4 linked regions of the Homo sapiens genome follow. The protein of the gene in region 2 interacts with the protein of the main gene of each other region in a pairwise test. Each region holds a gene or a part of one and is shown on either strand. Other genes may lie near its edges.

What was found.
Region 1: the proteins of PCP2 (region 2) and GNAI2 interact in binary tests that used the Homo sapiens proteins (3 or more experiments, as listed by UniProt).
Region 3: the proteins of PCP2 (region 2) and MEOX1 interact in binary tests that used the Homo sapiens proteins (3 or more experiments, as listed by UniProt).
Region 4: the proteins of PCP2 (region 2) and GNAI3 interact in binary tests that used the Homo sapiens proteins (3 or more experiments, as listed by UniProt).

The regions. Positions count from the first base shown.
Region 1 is NC_000003.12:50,245,617-50,250,103, forward strand, and holds part of GNAI2 (guanine nucleotide-binding protein G(i) subunit alpha-2), read left to right. Parts: intron 1-1,293; exon of another isoform or gene 1,294-1,452; coding exon of another isoform or gene 1,453-1,459; intron 1,460-4,487. UniProt on the Homo sapiens protein: Guanine nucleotide-binding proteins (G proteins) are involved as modulators or transducers in various transmembrane signaling systems.
Region 2 is NC_000019.10:7,630,887-7,634,990, reverse strand, and holds PCP2 (Purkinje cell protein 2 homolog), read left to right. Parts: upstream 1-1,271; 5' UTR 1,272-1,370; coding exon of another isoform or gene 1,371-1,533; coding exon 1,534-1,584; intron 1,585-1,853; coding exon of another isoform or gene 1,854-2,038; intron 2,039-2,160; coding exon 2,161-2,275; intron 2,276-2,473; coding exon 2,474-2,598; intron 2,599-3,034; exon of another isoform or gene 3,035-3,182; coding exon 3,183-3,302; 3' UTR 3,303-3,376; downstream 3,377-4,104. Other genes in the region: protein PET100 homolog, mitochondrial, read right to left, coding at 3,435-3,518. UniProt on the Homo sapiens protein: May function as a cell-type specific modulator for G protein-mediated cell signaling.
Region 3 is NC_000017.11:43,658,723-43,663,798, reverse strand, and holds the start of MEOX1 (homeobox protein MOX-1), read left to right. Parts: upstream 1-1,876; 5' UTR 1,877-2,264; coding exon 2,265-2,733; intron 2,734-5,076. UniProt on the Homo sapiens protein: Mesodermal transcription factor that plays a key role in somitogenesis and is specifically required for sclerotome development. Required for maintenance of the sclerotome polarity and formation of the cranio-cervical joints.
Region 4 is NC_000001.11:109,554,528-109,559,014, forward strand, and holds part of GNAI3 (guanine nucleotide-binding protein G(i) subunit alpha-3), read left to right. Parts: intron 1-4,487. UniProt on the Homo sapiens protein: Heterotrimeric guanine nucleotide-binding proteins (G proteins) function as transducers downstream of G protein-coupled receptors (GPCRs) in numerous signaling cascades.

The sequences.
Region 1 (4,487 bases), on a different chromosome or scaffold from region 2:
CAGCACCTCCTGGCTCCTGCACAGGCGGTACCTGGGGCCTGAGGCGCCAGCGATGAACAGGTCTGGGGCCTCCTTTATATCAGGCCAGCCTTCCTCACCCGGTGCCTGAGTTTCCCTCTGTGCAGTGGAAAGGGCCCCACTGAGGGAGACACACCTTGCCCCAGAAAGACTTTCCCATGTGTGGGCAGGACCTGAGGCCTCAGTTTCCCTAACACAGAGATCTCTGACTTGGCAGTAGGAAGCCAGGCCCTGCTTGGTAGTGCTCCCCTTTGGGCACTGTGAACCCCTGGAAGCCGCTGGAGGCAGCCGAGTGCCAGAGACTGGCGGGAGGGAGGTGTGGAGTCTGTTGGTCTGTTCAGGCATCCGTTATAGGGCCATGCCACACACATGGGTGGGAGTGTTGCCGGTCCCTTTCAAGACCTCGAGTCCCTGCCTCCCAGTGCCGGACCCGTGCTGAGCCTTCTCGGAGGGAATGAGGGGGGCCGGGGAGCAGCACCTGGAGGAAGGAAGAGACGCCAGGGGCGGGGCTCAGAGGGCCTTTGTCTGGCGGGGTCTCTGCCCCTCCCTCCCGTTGCCATGGTTTCTGTGTGTGCCGAGTCTCTGCAGGCTGGGGGCTTCCCAGGGACGGGCTGGTGGGTGGGACACCTTCCCCAGTCGCCCCTGGCTGAGGCTGCTTTTCTGAAACAAAACGCTCCCCAGTGCTGCCCAGCCCCCACTTCCTTCCACAGTGTCTCCGGCTGCCGGGCGCCCCCTGGTGGTGGCGGGGCATGGGTCCCTAGGACTGCAGGGGACGTGGGGGTGCACGGGATCTGAGAACCACAGGCTGAGCTGGAGATGTGGCACCTTCCTGGGATAAGAGAAGGAGGTGGTGTCCGGGCTGCCTTTGTGGTGGGCTCAGGGCTACCCCCACCTGCCCCACCATATCCCACTGGGATAGGCTGGGGAGTTGTGGCAGTGTGGGCGGGCCTGGTGTTGTGGGTTTGAGCTGGGCCGCTGCCCAAGTCTACCCTGTGGTCCCAGCCGCTGCTGCTTCTGAGAATCTCTGCCCTCGGGCCTGCCACGTCAGCTGGCTGCTCTTCCTGGCCCCACGTGTTCCCACGGAGCCCACCAGTATGGGGGTTCTCTCCAGGGAGGTGTGCCTGGCTTTCTGGGTGTGTGCAGCCAGTGAGCAATGTCAGCAGTGAGGCTCCTGGGCAGGAAGGAGGCCCCAGCTGTGTAGGAGTGCCGGGTTATACTGAAGGGAAGTGACGACACAGCGGAAAGCCAACAGAGGAGCCAGTAGCTCTGACTCCTGTCCCAGGTTATGCTGAGTCCCAGCAGGGAACCACCACAGCTCTGAATCAGCCTGTTAGCCGCTGTCCATTGCTCTTCATCTGCTCTTTATCTGAAAATCTTCAGAAGCTTTCCTTCAAATGAGATGACCACAGCAGTCTTCTCTGCAGGTTGCAGGAAATGAGAGGTTTGGGGAAATCTGTACTCTTTCAAAGGGTAGATAAATAGTGATAACTTTTACCTGAATGCTCACATGTGCCCCACACTGTGAGAAGAGCTTTGCATTTAATCCTTACCCATCTCTCAGAAGGAGACAGCGTTGTCCCATTTCACAGATGAGGTGCCAGAGAAAGGGCAGGAAAGGAGCTGAAGCTCTTGAGGATCTCAGGAAGGATCAGAGTGGACATCAGGGCTGTGGCAAGTCTGGACCTCCTTCTGGGAGAGGATCTGAAAATGGGAGGCAGGCTGGCTGGCTGCTTGAGGCTTGACAGCTCTGCCCAGGGGAAACTGAAGCCAGAAAGGATAGTAGCAAGTCCCAGCCTCCCAGCAGATCAAAGCCTATTAAGGAGTTAGAGGGTCCAAGATGAACAGATGCTGTGACTTGAATGCTGGGGCCTGGACTAAGCATCAAGTGACAAGACCTGTGGGCCTGTCTCTCCTGCTGCAGGGGCCCTGCTGGTCTTGTTCACGCAGGTGGAGTGGTACTGTCTCCCTTCTCTCATCGGTTCCCTCCTCTGGGGCTCAGCACTCCCAAAGTGGAAGCAGATGTTCTAGTGCAGAGCAGCTGCCACCACCCAGCACATCACTATGATTACTGCCTACCTGCTGTGGGCCCTAACTGCGCCACAGGGCAAAGGCTGCAGAGGTTTCTTCCTTGGTGGGAAGAGGTGTGACTCAGTGGGAATGCCAAGGCCACCCCAGGGAACCTCTGCAGGCCTCTCTGGTCTTACCCAGCTGGGGACAGAGCACTTGGTGGGGCCCTCTGCGGGCAGGAGGGGCTGATTCATGCCACCTTCTATTGCCTCAGTTCCCCTACCCAGCATCTTTGCAGAAATCTGGACTCAGGCTGGACGCGGTGGCTCACGCCTGTAATCCCAGCACTTTGGGAGGCCAAAGCAGGTGGATCACTTGAGGTCAGGAGTTCGAGACCAGCCTGGCCAACATGGTGAAACCCTGTCTCTACTAAAAATACAAAAATTAGCCGGGCGTGGTGGCACATGCCTGTAGTCCCAGCTACTGGGGAGGCTGAGGCAGGAGAATTGCTTGAACCGGGAGGCAGAGGTTGAACCGGGAGGCAAAGGTTGCAGTGAGCCAAGATCATGCTATTGCACTCCAGCCTGAGCAACAGAGCGAGACTGTGTTTCAAAAAAAAAATCTGGACTCAGCCACCCCTCTGAGAGGCAGGTGCGAGGGGAGCTGGGTGTGTGCAAAACTCACAGATAAGCCTCTTGCCAGCTTATCTGGTAGGGGGCATCCCTCAGGTCCTGATGGAAAGAGGACCCAGCCAGAGATGGGGAGAGTGAAGCTACTACCCCACAGCTGCCAGGGCACTTAGCCTGTGGGCTGCCCGAGAGCTCTTCACCCCACCCATTCCACCCAGATGCCATCCTGGGGCTCCACCCACCTCTGCTCCTGTCCCCCTTCTCTGCTGGAGCTGCTCCTGGGCTGTGCCCCTGCCTCTGTCCCGTTGTTCCCCCTGCTTCCTGCCTGGCTGCCAGCACCACACCCTTGTCCTGCCACTCACTACTTCCCGCCTGAGTCACAGCTGCTGGAAAGACAAAGAGACCAGCCTGAGTCTAGGGATAGGGGCTCCATGACCTTGATTTGCTTACCTGTCAAGTGGAACTCTTTTTTCAGTGACCCCTGCTTGGGATAGAGAATGTTCTCTTAACATTTAAGAGGCCTTAGGAGGGGAAAATGAAACTTGAAGGGGACAGGGAAGTGGGCCCTCCCTGGCTGGGGCAGGGAGCAGATATCCTGGCTCCTAGTGTGACTGGCTCTGTGCTGCCTACCTCATGTCTACCAGGTCTAGCTGCTGCTAGGAAAATCAGATGCAAAGCAAGTTTGCACCCTCGTCCCTGGGCAGGGTCACGAAGCGGCCCACATCACCTACTAAGAGTGGGCAAAAGGCCAGACCCCCTCTTCACTCTCAGTGGCCAGATAGGGAAACTGATGCCTCAAGTGGGCAGGAGTCCCGAAGTCACACAAGATGGGGAAGCTTTCACCCTAGACCTCAGGTCCCCCATGCCCTGGGTAGCTTCCCTGCTGAGTCTGAGCTCGCCTGGCTCGGGACTGCATGGGGACCCATGACTTCGCATCCTTGGCCTCTGCTCCTGCAGTTCCCCCCATCCTGGCTGTGACTGGCTCCTGGTTCTTCCTCCTGCTCTGGAGGAGCCAGTGGGGAAGACAGTCAGGTAGCCACTGCTGCCCTCCCTGCCCCAGTGGGTGCTTTGAGCCCCAGGGGGATGGGCCTTAAGTGTTCAGGCATCGCTGTGAGGCTTTCCTGGGACCTTTCCCCATGTCCTCATTGGCAGGTGGAGGAGTGTTGGTATGCAGATCCTGGCTGCCCCTTTGCCATGCACAGCCCAATGGGGAGGGAGTGGTGCTGGTATATATCCCGGTACACACCCCAGTGAAGATACTGGGCCCGGCCCCTGTAGTGCCCAGGGGCTAAAGCAATAGAGGGGATTGCTGCCCCAGCCACAGCGCCCCAGCCTTCCCAGGGCCTGCACATTTGTATGTCCACAAGATTGTGCAACCATCACTGCTATCTAATTCCAGAACATAATCACCACCCTCAAAAATAAACTTCATACCCAACTAGCTGTCACTCCCCATCTCCCCAGATCCCCTCCCCTCATCCTGGAAAGCAGGCCTGGGACAGTCAGAAGCTCAGTGATTGCAGGCGCCTGATGGCATTTGTGAGGAGGGCTCAGGCCTTTCCCCTCAGGGTGGTCTCTGGCGTAGGGGGCTGAAGGTGGGCAGGGGCCTTGGCAAGGCCTGCCACCATGTCCCAATGCCTGCTGCCGCTTGTTGAGCACTGCAGACATGGCCCAGAGTCTGCCTGGGGAGCTAGGGAGTGAACCCAGTGCCAGGTGGACTGTGTGGCTCCGCTGCAGTACCAGGTACTTAGGACAGCTCTAGGAGGGACTGCACGGTGGGCAAGTGTGCTCCCTGCAGAGGGGACTCTAACCCTGTGACCTCAGCCTCCCTGG
Region 2 (4,104 bases):
ATGCAATATCACTGGTGTCCTTGTAAGATAGTTATATGTCTGCCTGGTTCTGTGTAGGTGGTTGGGGGGGTGGGGAAATGGGTATATGAAGACTGGGACACAGAGGGAGAATGCCATGTGACCACGGAGGCAGGGAGTGAAGAGCTGCAGTGACAAGCCAAGGACATCAAGGACGGCAGGCCACTGCCAAAAGCCAGGGAGGGGCAAGGAGGGCTCCTGAGACCTGGTTTTCAGAGGGAGCACAGCTCTGCCAACACCTTCATTTCAGGCTGTGGCCTCTGGAACGTTGGCTCAATAAATTTGTTAAAAAAAAATTTTAAAGGCTCAGCATGGTGGCTCATGCCTGTAATCCCAGCACTTTGGGAGGCCCAGGCAGGAGGATCACATGAACCCAGGAGTTTGAGACTAGCCTGGGCAAAATAGTGAGACCTCATCTCTATATAAAAATATATAACAAAAGTCAACTTATGTGTTTTAAGCCATCTGGTCTATGACACTTTGTTCTGGCAGGCCTAGGAAAGGGATACACGTACTGAGGAGGGGGACACTTCATTGGCATAGAGGGAGAGAGTGTGAACTTGGCCTTTTGTGGAACAGAGGAGGCTCGGGCAGAGGTGGTGATAGTGCAGCCCATTCATTCTGAGATGAAACTTCCACTGGTTTCCGTAAAGGCGTCTTGGGGAGGGAAGGGAAGGGGATGGGGACCTCCCAGTGGTATCCCCTGCTTGGGCACTGAGGGAAAGCCACAGTGGCTCGGGGGAAAAGGCAGGGACGTCCTCTCCCCGCCTGCCTCTGTCCCCAGGGAGTCTCGCCTCCTGTTCCCACCTGGGGCTAGGGTGATAGAGGAGAGGAGATAGCTCAACCTGGCATTTAGGTGGTGTGGGAACAGGAGACCCCAGACTTTCTTGTTTTGGGGTCTGGGGCAGGCAACCAGGCTCCAGGGACAGTGAGTTGAAGGAAGGGTGGCTGGGAGACCCCTTGACTTGCTGCCAAGGAGACAGAGCTGGAGCTAGGGTGGCCGGTGGTGTCTGAGGCAGGTGCAGAGAGGGAGGGAGGGAAGGGGCCTTTGACTCCAACCTCCTTTTTCTGTACCGACTGCAGGTGGCAGCTGCCCTTTCAGGAGCCAGTGGGGGAACCTGGGTGGCTGGGTGGGGACACCTGCAAGTCCTCCCTAAGCCAGCTACCACCCTACACTGTTGGCCTCCCTTCTCCAACTGTGGGGATGCTGCTCAGGCCTTTTGTGACATCACACCTGAGAGTCCCTGGGGTCCAGTCATTGCTGCTGGGCACAGCGAGGTCCAAGCTCAGGTCGCCCTGCCCCCTACCCACCATGCCAGATCCAGCATCGTTGTGGGCAAACAATTATCTGGATGATCTTTATGGGGCTTAAGCTTGGGTGGGAGCAGATGGGGCATGAGCTGGGGATTTGGGGATGGGGGGAATCCACACCCCCACGTCCTGGACGTTTAAAAGGCCCTCTCTGGCACTGGGCCGGGGCAGAGGCCAGCAGAAAAGTGACTGGAGTCCAGGGACATGATGGATCAGGAGGAGAAGACGGAGGAAGGCTCAGGCCCCTGTGCCGAGGTGAGAGGGCCCTGCCCCCACCCCACCCCCAGCTCAAGGTCTCAGAGCCCATGATTGACAAGACTAGTTTGTAGGGCACCTAATTAACGAGTGAGTCTCCTAGGACCCCCTGACCCAGTTGTGGCTGTAGAAAGGGGCTGGTGGGCTTGGGGGTCTGAGTGCCAGGCCCCAGGGCAGAGGGCAGGGCTCTCCGTGTGGACCCCTATTGATGGGAGATGCTGGGACCTGGGGGTAGCTCCTGGGCCATGTTTCCCTGATTCGTGTCCCAGCTCCCAGGCCACACTCATCAGGCCCCAATCTAGGACGGCGGGACACGCATCGGAGCCTGTCCCTTGAAGCGGTACCACGTGAAGTGGCACTGCTGGCCAGGGCCCCTGGGGCGGGGGCCGGGATTGGGAAGGAGACTCATGTCTCATTCAGAACAGCTCTGCAGAGAGGATCGGCGGGGACCATGGTGAGAGCTGAGGAAGTGGGGACGGCAGGCCCCGGGGTCAGGGTGTGAGCAAGCTGGCTAGGAAGTTTGGGGAGGGGCCCCCAAGCTGAAGGGCCAACCAGACTGAGCGAGTCTGTCCCCAGGCGGGCTCCCCAGACCAGGAGGGCTTCTTCAATCTGCTGAGCCACGTGCAGGGCGACCGGATGGAGGGACAGCGCTGTTCACTGCAAGCCGGGCCGGGCCAGACCACCAAGAGCCGTGAGCATGGGCACGGGGGTGCTGTCCATGGGGCGTGAACGGGGTGGGAGTGCAGGGCAAGTGGTCATCTGGAGGGCCTGGGGGCACGGGATGTGGGAGGTGGTTGTGCACCCTGAAGCATCTGTGTGGGGGTGAAGGGGTAGGGTTGGGGGCCCCCACTCCGGCTGTGTCCTCCCAAGTCTGTGAACGTCCACGCAGAGAGCGACCCCACCCCCGAGATGGACAGCCTCATGGACATGCTGGCCAGTACCCAGGGCCGCCGCATGGATGACCAACGTGTGACAGTCAGCAGCCTGCCCGGCTTCCAGCCCGTGGGGTCCAAGGTAGGTGATGTTCTGGCGATGTCGAGGAGAAACCCGCCAGGCAGTGCTCTCCGATCCTGCCCTCCACCCCAGCCAGGAGGGAACAGGGCCTGCCCCATCTCTGTCCATCCGCTGCCCTGACTTCAGATGGGAGGACCAAGGCCCAGGCAGTGGCTAGAGGGGCCCAAGGTTATACAGGGGCCATGCTAGTGTAAGACCCATGGCTGGAACTTGTGGCTCCTGCCCCCAAGTCTGAAGGTTCTGGGGAGGCCAAAGGGAGAAAATAGGACCCCTTCCTAGGAAAGTATCCCAGGGAGGAAGTCACGTAAGCTCACACATAGGATATATACATCTGTATACTCACATCTGTTGACTTCACACATACACGAAGCTTGGGTTCTGATCAAGATCCCAGCGAGGGCCCCAAGACCTGCCACCTCACACTCAAATGCCACCCTAAATGGCAGATATTGAGGGTAAACATAGACCAGTGCTCACAATGAGGTGGGACACGGTGGCTACCTGCACCCTCTCTCCATTGTTCGCCACCTGTGGCCGGCACTGCCCTTGAGCCCTCCCCCTGGCTGACCCCTCTTCATCCACAGGACGGAGCACAGAAACGAGCTGGGACCCTCAGTCCCCAACCCCTGCTCACCCCTCAGGACCCGACCGCTCTCGGCTTCCGTCGGAACAGCAGCCCCCAGCCCCCGACACAAGCCCCCTGAGGGCCTGAGGCATCCTGGGTCTCACTCGGCCCCCAAAAACTGATAAAAGAATAAAACACTTAAATGAATAACAAGGAACTGAGTATATGTATATTTCATCAGGGGAGGGGCTAGGACTCCCACTTGGAGGCCTCAGGAGTTCTGCTGGGCGTCGCGAAGGAGCTTCTCCTCCCGCCGCTTCCGTAACCTCTCTTTGAATTCCTCTATCTCTTGAAGCTAGGGGTGGAGAAGCGGGTGGGACAGGAAGGGGGGAGGGGCACACACCTCAGAGCCGGGACCACCCCCCCCCGCCCACCTCTCCCACCACCCTGCCCCAGACCACGGCTTCAGGGTTCAGTGTCTTCACTGGAAGCCCCCTGCCAATTACAAAGGGGTCCGCGTGGGATCCGCTTCACTCTTCCAGGAGAAGGCAATAAGGAAACCATCTACTCCTCTGCTCTCGGTTCCTTACTCATGGCTGAGAGTAAAATGTTTCTTTTTGAGACAAAGTCTCACTCTATTGCCCAGGCTGGAGTGCAGTGGCGTGATCTTGGGCTCACTGCAACCTCCACCTCCTGGGTTCAAGTGATTCTTCTCCCTCAGCCTCCCAAGCAGCTGGAATTATAGGCGCCTGCCACCATGCCTGGCTAAGTTTTGTATTTCTGTAGACATGGGGTTTCGCCATGTTGGCCAGGCTGGTTTTGAACTCCTGACCTCAAGTGATCTACCCACCTCAGCCTCCCATGCCCTGGGATTACAAGCATGAGCCACTGCGCCTGGCCTAAAATTTTCATCTAAAACCCATCCCGGATACAAGAATCCA
Region 3 (5,076 bases), on a different chromosome or scaffold from region 2:
GAGCTTGCAGTGAGCTGAGATCATGCCACTGCACTCCAGCCTGGGCGACAGAACGAGACTCCATCTCAAAAAGAAAAAAAAAAAAAAGAAGTTCAGAGAGATAAGGTGACTTGTTCCAGGGCACACAGCCAGGAAGTGGCAGACCTGGGGCTTGAACTCAGACCCGTCTAACCTCAAACCCCATGCCTCCTCCTCTGCATCTGGCCTGCTCCAAACTGAACAGCAGGACACCTGAGGCCAAGTGCTGATTCCACCATTTCTTAGCTGTGTGAGTCTGGGCAGCCCAGTCATCCATCTGAGCCTCGGTTTTGTCATCTGCAAAATGGAGACATAATTCTTACTTACCCATCCTAGGAAAGTTGTGAGGCTCAGAGAATTGTGTGTGCCACAGCTAAGCCCTGGGCAAAGCAGAAAGATGAGTCTGGTTGACAGCTATGACCCCATCCACTCTACTGGTCTACAACACTCTGACCGCTTGTTCCAGAAGAGGGCACATCTTTTCATATGTACACCCCTCCCCATCTTTTACAGCTGCTCCTGCTCCCAGGATGTGTATCTGACTGGAGTTTCTGGATTAAAGGCCAGTCGTGGCTTCATTCCACATCCCTGGGTGCCCTTCGGCTCCTCCTAGGAGCATCTCCTGCACCCACCCCCCAGGGCCCCACCTCCAGGCTGCAGAGCTAAGACCTAGGGGCCCCTCCTCAGGGAACCCTCGCCGTCTTTGGAAGCAGCCAGCAGAGACGCTGCTGTTAAGGTCCATGCCTGTTTCTGCCCCCATCCTGCTGCTCTGGGCCATGGGAATAACCAGTGGGGAAGGAGTTCTGGCCCCTGGGTGTTAGGAATGTCGTCCTCCAAGAAATTGCATTAACCCTCTGAGAGACCAGCAGGGCGCAGCCATGAGGAAGACTGGGCATCAAGATGGCACTTGGGCTGGCTGCCCTGTGATGTGCACCAGCCCGGAGACCCACGTGCCTGCTTGCCAAAGAGGCTCCTTTGGGGAATGAGGAGCCCCTGATTCCTATTTCCCTACCCCAAATTCCTCGGAAGCCTCCGCCTCTGGGGGATGAGAAAGGGAAGCAGGTGGGTGGAGGTGAAGGGGGCAGGGAGCAGGTGGGAGGAGACCCGAAGAAACTTCAAGGACCTTATTTAAGAGCCTTGCCATTGCTGTGAAGAAAAATGACTTGAAACCTCTCTAGAGAAGAGTGTGGCTAATTGGCATGTATGTTGGAGGTTAAAGAGCGGAAGGAAGAATCTGATTGTTTTTTTAAGTTACTGAGAAAGTGAGAATGTCACTCTGGGCAGAGAGAAATTCTTTTTTTCTAGAGTGTGCCTTTCTTTGTACTGCAGACCACAGTGGGCCGCTGAGACTTGCAAAAAAGATTTCTTTTAATCCACCTTCCTTTTTCGCAGGCAGCAGTAGAAGGGCCTTTAAATCAAATGCAATCACCAAGCTTGTCTCTTGCTCTTATTCCTCACTTCACTCCCTGGAATTTGGCATTTGATGGATTCTGGATCTGACTTAAGGCTTTTTCTAAATCCAAGACTTGGGGAATTTTGTTAACAGTGCAATAAAAATAACTTCATAGTGTTACAGGAGGCACATTAAAGACGGTGTGTGTGTATGTGTGTGTGTGCTGCTCTCTTTCCTTAAAAAAAAAATACAGACAATGTTTCTTTAAAAGTCTCCATCTGCAAATCCCATTAGATGTGCATATAAGGTTTCTGATGATTAATAGTTGCCTGCTAGGGTTTTGGTTGGAGGGGATCTTGTGTGTGTGGGTTAACCCCTCCCTCTCCTCTCTCACATTTCACTTCAGAAATTTGTCACTCTCTCCCCACCGCAGGATTTAAAAGTGTGTCCCAGCAGCCCTGGTCCAGCCCTCTGCAGGCATTTGCTCTGGGCTCCAGGACGAACTCCTCGTCAGCTGGTGCGTCTGGGTTGGGACAGTGAAAATGTTTAGTGTCATTGGCGACAAATACACATACAGGGGATCCCAGTAGGTAGGCTGGTGCATTGGAGGGGCAGGAGCAAGCCCGACATAGGTGTGTGCACACACATAGGAGTAGCTGGCCACATGTGTGTGTACTTTAAGGAGAGACTTTAGTTTTGGGTTTTTTTTTTTTTTTGGTTCCTGGGGTAAATTTTCTGTTGAACATTTTTCCCTCCTATTTAGTTTTTTTTCTTTTGCATTTTTAAAAATTTGAACATAAAAAGTATAAAGAATCAAATCTTTGAAAGGACCGAGGCGTGCAGCGGACAGCAGATGGATCCCGCGGCCAGCAGCTGCATGAGGAGCCTCCAGCCCCCAGCCCCTGTCTGGGGCTGCCTTCGAAACCCCCACTCGGAAGGCAATGGGGCCTCAGGGCTACCCCACTACCCGCCCACCCCGTTCTCCTTCCACCAGAAACCAGACTTCCTGGCGACAGCGACGGCAGCGTACCCTGACTTCTCAGCCTCCTGCCTGGCAGCCACCCCACACAGCCTGCCCCAGGAGGAGCACATCTTCACTGAGCAGCACCCCGCTTTCCCACAGTCCCCCAACTGGCACTTCCCTGTCTCAGACGCCCGGCGCAGGCCCAACTCAGGCCCGGCAGGGGGTTCCAAGGAAATGGGGACCAGCAGCCTGGGCCTGGTGGACACCACAGGAGGCCCAGGCGATGACTACGGGGTGCTTGGGAGCACTGCCAATGAGACAGAGAAGAAATCATCCAGGCGGAGAAAGGAGAGTTCAGGTAGGTGGCTCAGGAGCAGCTGATCATTCCTTTACTGTGTGACCCTGGGGAAGTTACTCACCCTCTCTGTGCCTAGGTGCTCTGAGCATGAATTTCTGTCTAGTCCATCCAAATGCAGGAGACTGGACCAGTTACCTTTGGGGTTTCTTCCACTGAGAGTTCTAGGATTCTCTGGTGATGGGGACCATGTCTGTGTCCCAGCACTCCTGGGCCCCAGAAAGGGTGTCCAGCAAGAGAATGAAACAGGATCAGCCAGGATTTGGAGGACACGTGAAATGGATCCTCTGGGTGCAGACTGGCGAGGGCTGGTGAGGGGCTTTCCTGAATCAGGCTGCCATTGAGTCATCCTCCTCCCCACCATGCTTTGGCCAGCCCCAAGTGGTCCTAGAGCCACAGGGCTCGCTTACCAGGGAAGTTCAGCTGAGGTTAAGGCTCTGAGAGCTAAGACTGAAGCTGGGACCCTGGGTGGCCACCCAAAGCCAAGACCCTATGTGTCCAGGAGCCTAGAGGCAGAGAAGCAGGCCTGCGGCTGGGATGGGAGAATCAAGGGGTGAGGGGGAGATGGAGGGCTGAGGTTTGGGGCAGACTGCCCACCAGATATCACCCTGCGGAGCTGGGCCATGTCCAGGCCAAGGGGACAGACAACTCAGCATGCTGAGATCTGGCTGACCCCCCAGGAAGGCAGCCCCGCAAGGAGCTGCAAGGGATGGGCAGCCTCTGAGAGAGTCAGGGAGGCAGGCAGCCAAGGGAGTCCGTGCTGGAGTCCCAGAGGCTGGAGGATGAGATTGGCCTATTTGTTAAGATTCCAGCTAAAGCCCTTCTCTTCCCCAGGGTGGGGACCTGCTGCTTCCTCACCTCCCCACCAGGCCCTCCCTGGTTGCTCACTATACCTGTCCACCTTTTGTCTGGTTCCTTGTCCCGGCCTCGTTCAGAACAAAGCAGTGACCAAGCCTCCTGCCCGTGCTGCCCTGTTTTCCTCCTGACAGCCGCCCTCAGGGGCACGCCTGTCTGTCGGAGCCTGTAGAGGACCTTCCCATGGGGCTAACCAGGGCAGGACAGAAAAGAAGGACACCAACCAACAGGTGGGAATGCTTTGTGCTTTGCTTTATAAGCACAGCTTTCCCGAGTTTCTGCTCTTAGCCAAGCCCAGGAATGCTCTGAGATGAATAAAGGGGTCTCACCCAAGAAAGCTCAAACTGAGAGGAAGAAGAGGCCTGCAGAGGTGTGTCAGCAGTGGGATGTGCCCTGATGGGGAGGCTTAAGGTGCCATGGGATACTGACGTCAGCTCTTTTGAGTCCCACGGGTTTGGGAGATGGGGACAGCAGGTTTTATTAGTACCTTGATTCTCTCAATCTGCAAAATGAAAGACTGAAAGTTGGTGAGAACACAGAAAGAATGGGGTCAAACTAGAGTGAGCAGCTCATCTCCATTTGCCCAGGACTTTTCCAGTTTTAGCACTGAAAATCCTGTCGTAGGAAACCCCACAGTCCCAGGCAAACAGAAGAATTGGTCACCCTAGAAGTGAGCTCAAACCCCAGGCTTCAGGCCCCCGGTATCACCCCCTTCAGTAGATTTCAAATGCAGTCCTCATTTTGAAATGATGTTTGGTCTGTCTGCTTGAAGAAGCCCCTTCTTCAATGGGAGATAGGAACTCTAGCAGCCCTCATGGCTGCTAAATAGAAGGGCCCTTTAAACCGCCAGCCAGTTAGATCCCCATCCCGAAAATTAACTCATCCTGCCCCTGGTAGGAAATGTGCTAAGGATGAGAAGCAACTCTCAGCGACTTGGCTCTGAACCTGGTTGAAGAGCTTTCCCCTTGGTGGCGGCACGCAGCACTGTGGCTCCTTCCTCTCTGCCACTTTCCAGAGAACTGACAGCCAAGGGCATTGGGAAGGGATAGCAAAGCCAAGAGCCTGCTGGGCTCAGGCAGAATCTTCCAGCATTCCGAGTCTCAGCAAAACCCAAATGCACCAGCTCTCTTTTTGGCGAGTGGCCGATGGCCCTGCAATGCAGAGAGACCATTCACACTAAGCAGCTGGCCACCCAGGAGTACAGGGACACCCTCGGCTGAACGGCCTGCATGCTTCAGGGTCAGACTTTGGTGGAGGGAGGTTCCCATCCGCAGGGGCCCTGGGCTTCCCTAAGGGTCCCCTCAGGAGCACCAGCAGCAGATGAGGCAGGGCCCAGTGAGCTGACTCTCACTCATCCCCCTGTGATTCCAGACAAACTCACTGTTCAGCATGGAAATCTTTATTGCCGCAATGCTTGCATCCTCCTTTGGAATTTAACTGAAGGGGAGGAAGGAGGCAAGAAAGATCAGCTTTGTAAGAGCCCAAAGAAGG
Region 4 (4,487 bases), on a different chromosome or scaffold from region 2:
TGTCTATTCAAGTCCTTAGCCCACTTTTTGATGGGATTGTTTTTTTCGTGCTGATTTGATTTCCTTGTAGATTCTGGATATTAGTCCTTTGTCAGATGTATAGATTGTGAAGATTTTCTCCCACTCTGGGTTGTCTGTACTCTGCTGATTTCTTTTGTTGCTCAGAAGCTTTTTAGTTTAGTTGAGTCCCATTTATTTATTTTTATTTTTGTCTTTGCATTTGCTTTTGGGTTCTTGGTTGTGAAGTCTTTGCCTAAGCCAATGGCTAGAAGGGTTTTTCCAATGTTATCTTCTAGAATTTTTATGGTTTTGGGTCTTAGATTTAAGTCAGTAGCCCTATACACCAACAGCAACCAAGCTGAGAATCAAATCAAGAACTCAACCTTTTACAGTAGCTGCAAACAAAAAACAAACAAACAAACAATACTTAGGAATATACTTGACCAAGAAGGTGAAACACCTCTACAAGGAAAACTACAAAACACGGCTGACAGAAATCATAGATGATACAAACAAATGGAAACACGTCCCATGCTCATGGATGGGTAGAATCAATATTGTGAAAATGACCATACTGCCAAAAGCATATCTACAAATTCAATGCAATTCCCATTAAAGTACCACCATCATTCTTCACAGAACTAGAAAAAACAATCCTAAAATTCATGTGGACCCAAAAAAGAGCCCGTATAGCCAAAGCAAGACTAAGCAAAAAGAACAAACCTAGAGGCATTAGATTACCTGACTTCGAACTATACTGTAAGGCCATAATCACCAAAACATCATGGTACTGGTGTAAAAACAGGCATATAGACTAATGGAACAGAATAGAGAGCCCAGAAATAAAGCCAAATAACTTCCAGTCAACTAATCTTCGACAAAGAAACAAAAATGTGAAGTGGCGAAAGGACACCCTGTTCCACAAATGGTGCTGGGATAATTGACAAGCCACATGTAGAAGCATTAATCACTTTTGCAGTCTGAAAATACGGCCCTTTTCAGGAATTAAAATAATGTAATTTTCCCTGACTACGCTATTCCTGTAGTACACTGATGGCCATAGAGTAGGGTGCTTAATACTAGATTTCACAGGGCATGTAAGGTTCTAATAAGCGCTGCTACTACGTTTCTTTAAAAAATAATTTTTAGCATACTAAACTTATATGCATTATTACAAAAAAGTCTTTTAGTTTTTAGGCAGTTGTCTCTAATAAAATTGATTCGTAGTCTAGAGATCTTTTAGAGATGGTTAGTAAAACCTGAAGCACTATGCTGTTCCTCCCCCGTGGTGCTGAGCTTCTGCATCCTCTAGCTTGGGAAGGAAAAGGGAGTTGTTAGGCCTCTGCAGATACTTCCTTTTTTCCTATCCTGTCTCTCTTCCTTCCCTGGTTTCTTCTACAGCATACTTTCTCCTGGGGAAAGGAGTGCGTGCGTGCGTGTGTGTGTGTGTGTGTGTGTGTGTGTGTGTGTGTTTGTGTGTGTTTCATCAGGTCCTTCCATTAACTTCCATTCTTTTTCTTTTTTTTTTTTGTTGAGTCTTACTCTGTCGCCCAGGCTGGAGTGCAGTGGTGCAATCTCAATGCAACCTCTGCAACATCACTGCAACCTCTGCCTCCCAGGCTCAAACGATCCTCCCATCTCGGCCTCCTGAGTAGCTTGGACTACAGGCTAATGCCACCACCGTTGGCTAATTTTTTGTAGAGATGGGGTTTTGCCATATTGCCCAGGCTGGCCTTGAACTTCTGGGTTCAATGATTTGCCCACCTCAGCCTCCCAAAATGTTGAGATTATAGACTGAGATTATAGCCTCTAACTTCCATTCTTAAAAGTCGCTCATCTGTAACCAGGAAAAAACAATATAGAGAGACAGATGGCAGGAAAATCAGTAGCTGTGCAAAAATGGAATGTTCAAAACGCGGAAGAAAAAACTGAAACATTGTGAAGAGTCTTTTGGTTCCTTTTTTAGAGGACAATTTTTTACTTGGAATTTTTGAAAAATCTGTTTTCTCTACTTGAGATGGCTTCTCTTTCTGCTTTTCCCCCAGTGTATTAATGAACTATATCCTGCTACTTACCTCAAGTCAGTTTATCCAGTATAGAACTTGCCTTCACTCCTCACCCCCAAATCCACCTGTTGGGAACTTTTCTGTTTCAGTACCAGCATTCTCAACTTCATCTAGGCTGAAAACTGCAGTTGTTTTTAACTCCTCTGTTACTCTCATCTCTTACAACCAGTCAGTTGCGAAGTCCTATGACTCAGTCATTACTAGATTCCAGATTTTTGGACTTTAAGGACCAGAAAAATTTTTAAAAACTTGTTTTTGGTAGACTGACCTAGGATTTTAATATTTTATTTTTCTTAGTAAATACATTTTAAAAATCTCAGACTACTGTCTGTTATGATTACTATTTAGTTCTCTTTCCTCCCGAGACAGTCTCACTCTGTTGCCCAGACTGGAGTGTAGTGGCATGATCTTGGATCACTGCAACCTCTGCCTCCCAGGTTCGAGCAATTCTCATGCCTCAGCCTTCTGCGTAGCTGAGAGTACAGGTGTGCACCACCGTGCCCAGCTATTTTTTGTATTTTTAGTAGAGACGGGGTTTCACCATGTTGGCCAGGCTGGTCTCAAACTTCTGGCCTAAAGTGATCTACCCGCCTCGACCTCCCAAAGGCTGGGATTACAGGTGTGAGTCACCATGCCTCGCCATTGGTGAAACTGTTTTGATGTTCTGAATTGGATATGATATGATCCTCTATTTTTGAAACCTCATAGTACTTTTTATGCCACTTATAGTCTGCCTTATATATGGTTATTTATATACTTACCTGGTCCTAACCATATGGTCTTTTAGGGCAGGAGGACTAAGTATTTCTCATCTTTTTGTCTGTTGCAGGACTTAATAGAATGCTAAAGTGTTTTTGCCCATAAGGAATAGGAACACCACTCATACAAGTCACAAGTAAAAGAGAGGTATATTGAAAGGACAAAGTAGGCAACTTCATAGGTGTTAGACATTCAAGAATAGGTAAGAAATGAAATACAGGTAGGTTGTATGTACATGGACTGTGATACCCAACCCCCACCCTCTCCCCTATTTCTCCTAGAGCAGAATGGCCTCCCCCGAGTCTTCAACTTTTGTTTACTCTGACATCTTCTGTGGCTCACGCACCGCCTGACCCGGTAGTTCAAGTGCTTCATGTTATCTGATGCAGGCTCCCAGGATCCCATTCCCGGTTCCTGGTAAAGAGTATCAGATTGGCCCAGCCTTGTCATCTGCCAACCACAATCCAGTCATGTATGGTTGGGTATAGCAGAGTTGATGGGGTATCATGAGTTTTATAAGGTGACCCTTTCAAGGACTGGAGTAGGTCAAATTCTCTATTAAATGCATGGCCAGAGAGTTAATGTTTAATAAAGAGATGACAGTGCCTGACACCTAGTAGGCACTCACTAAATATAAGTTGAACATAATGGAATGACATGGGAGTATTGAGGAACTAAACATATCACTGCTTTACTTTCTCATTAGTTCATGAGAACGTGCCTGCTCATTCTCAATATTACCATCTTGTATAGTTGGGAGAGAGAACTTAAATTCAGATTTAAAATTAGGCCAGGCATGGTGGCTCATGCTTGTAATCCCAGCACTTTGGGAGGCTGAGGTGGGCAGATCACCTGAGGTCAGGAGTTCCAGACCAGCCTGGCCAACATGGTGAAGCCCCGTCTTTTCTGAAAATACAAAAATTAGCCAGGCGTGGTGGTGCACACCTGTAATCCCAGCTACTTGGGAGGCTGAGGCATGAGAATCGCTTGAACCTGGGAGGCGGACGTTGCAGTCAGCTGAGGTGGAATGACTGCACTCTAGCCTGGGCGACAGAGTGAGACTCTGTCTCAAAAAACAAAAACAAAAACAAAATTTAAAAATAAATTGAAGTAGGGTACAGGATTTTAAAGTCCCATTATCAACACATTCAACTCAGAATAGTTAATGTAACCTGAATTTAATTACCTTTGATTTTAATTTAGGAATGAATTTTTTAAAATGCATATAACCAGCTCAGGGTCTGTGCTTCATCATCACCCTGGCTTTTTTTTTGTGCTAATTTTTCCTCTTACTACTTTTATGAGTACCAGAAAATTATCCAAAGCTAAGAGAAGAAATAAAACACTGTTTTTGCTCCTTATTAATAATTTGCTTCTAAGTTTTTGTTAGAGAGTAGGTAAAAACGTTTGGCAAAGTAGATTGCTCATAGAGTTTAGCTATCCATGCTTTGTTTTTACCTTTAGTTTAGTTTTATGGCAGGGGAATAGGACTTGTTGAAGGGAGTGGGAAAGAAGGGATGCAGGTCTTCATAATAAGGAATGTCGGCCAGGCGCAGTATCTCACACCTGTAATCCCAGCACTTTGGGAGGCCAAGGCAGGCAGATCACTAGGTCAGGAGTTCGAGACCAGCCTGGCCAGCATGGTGAAACTCCATCTCTACT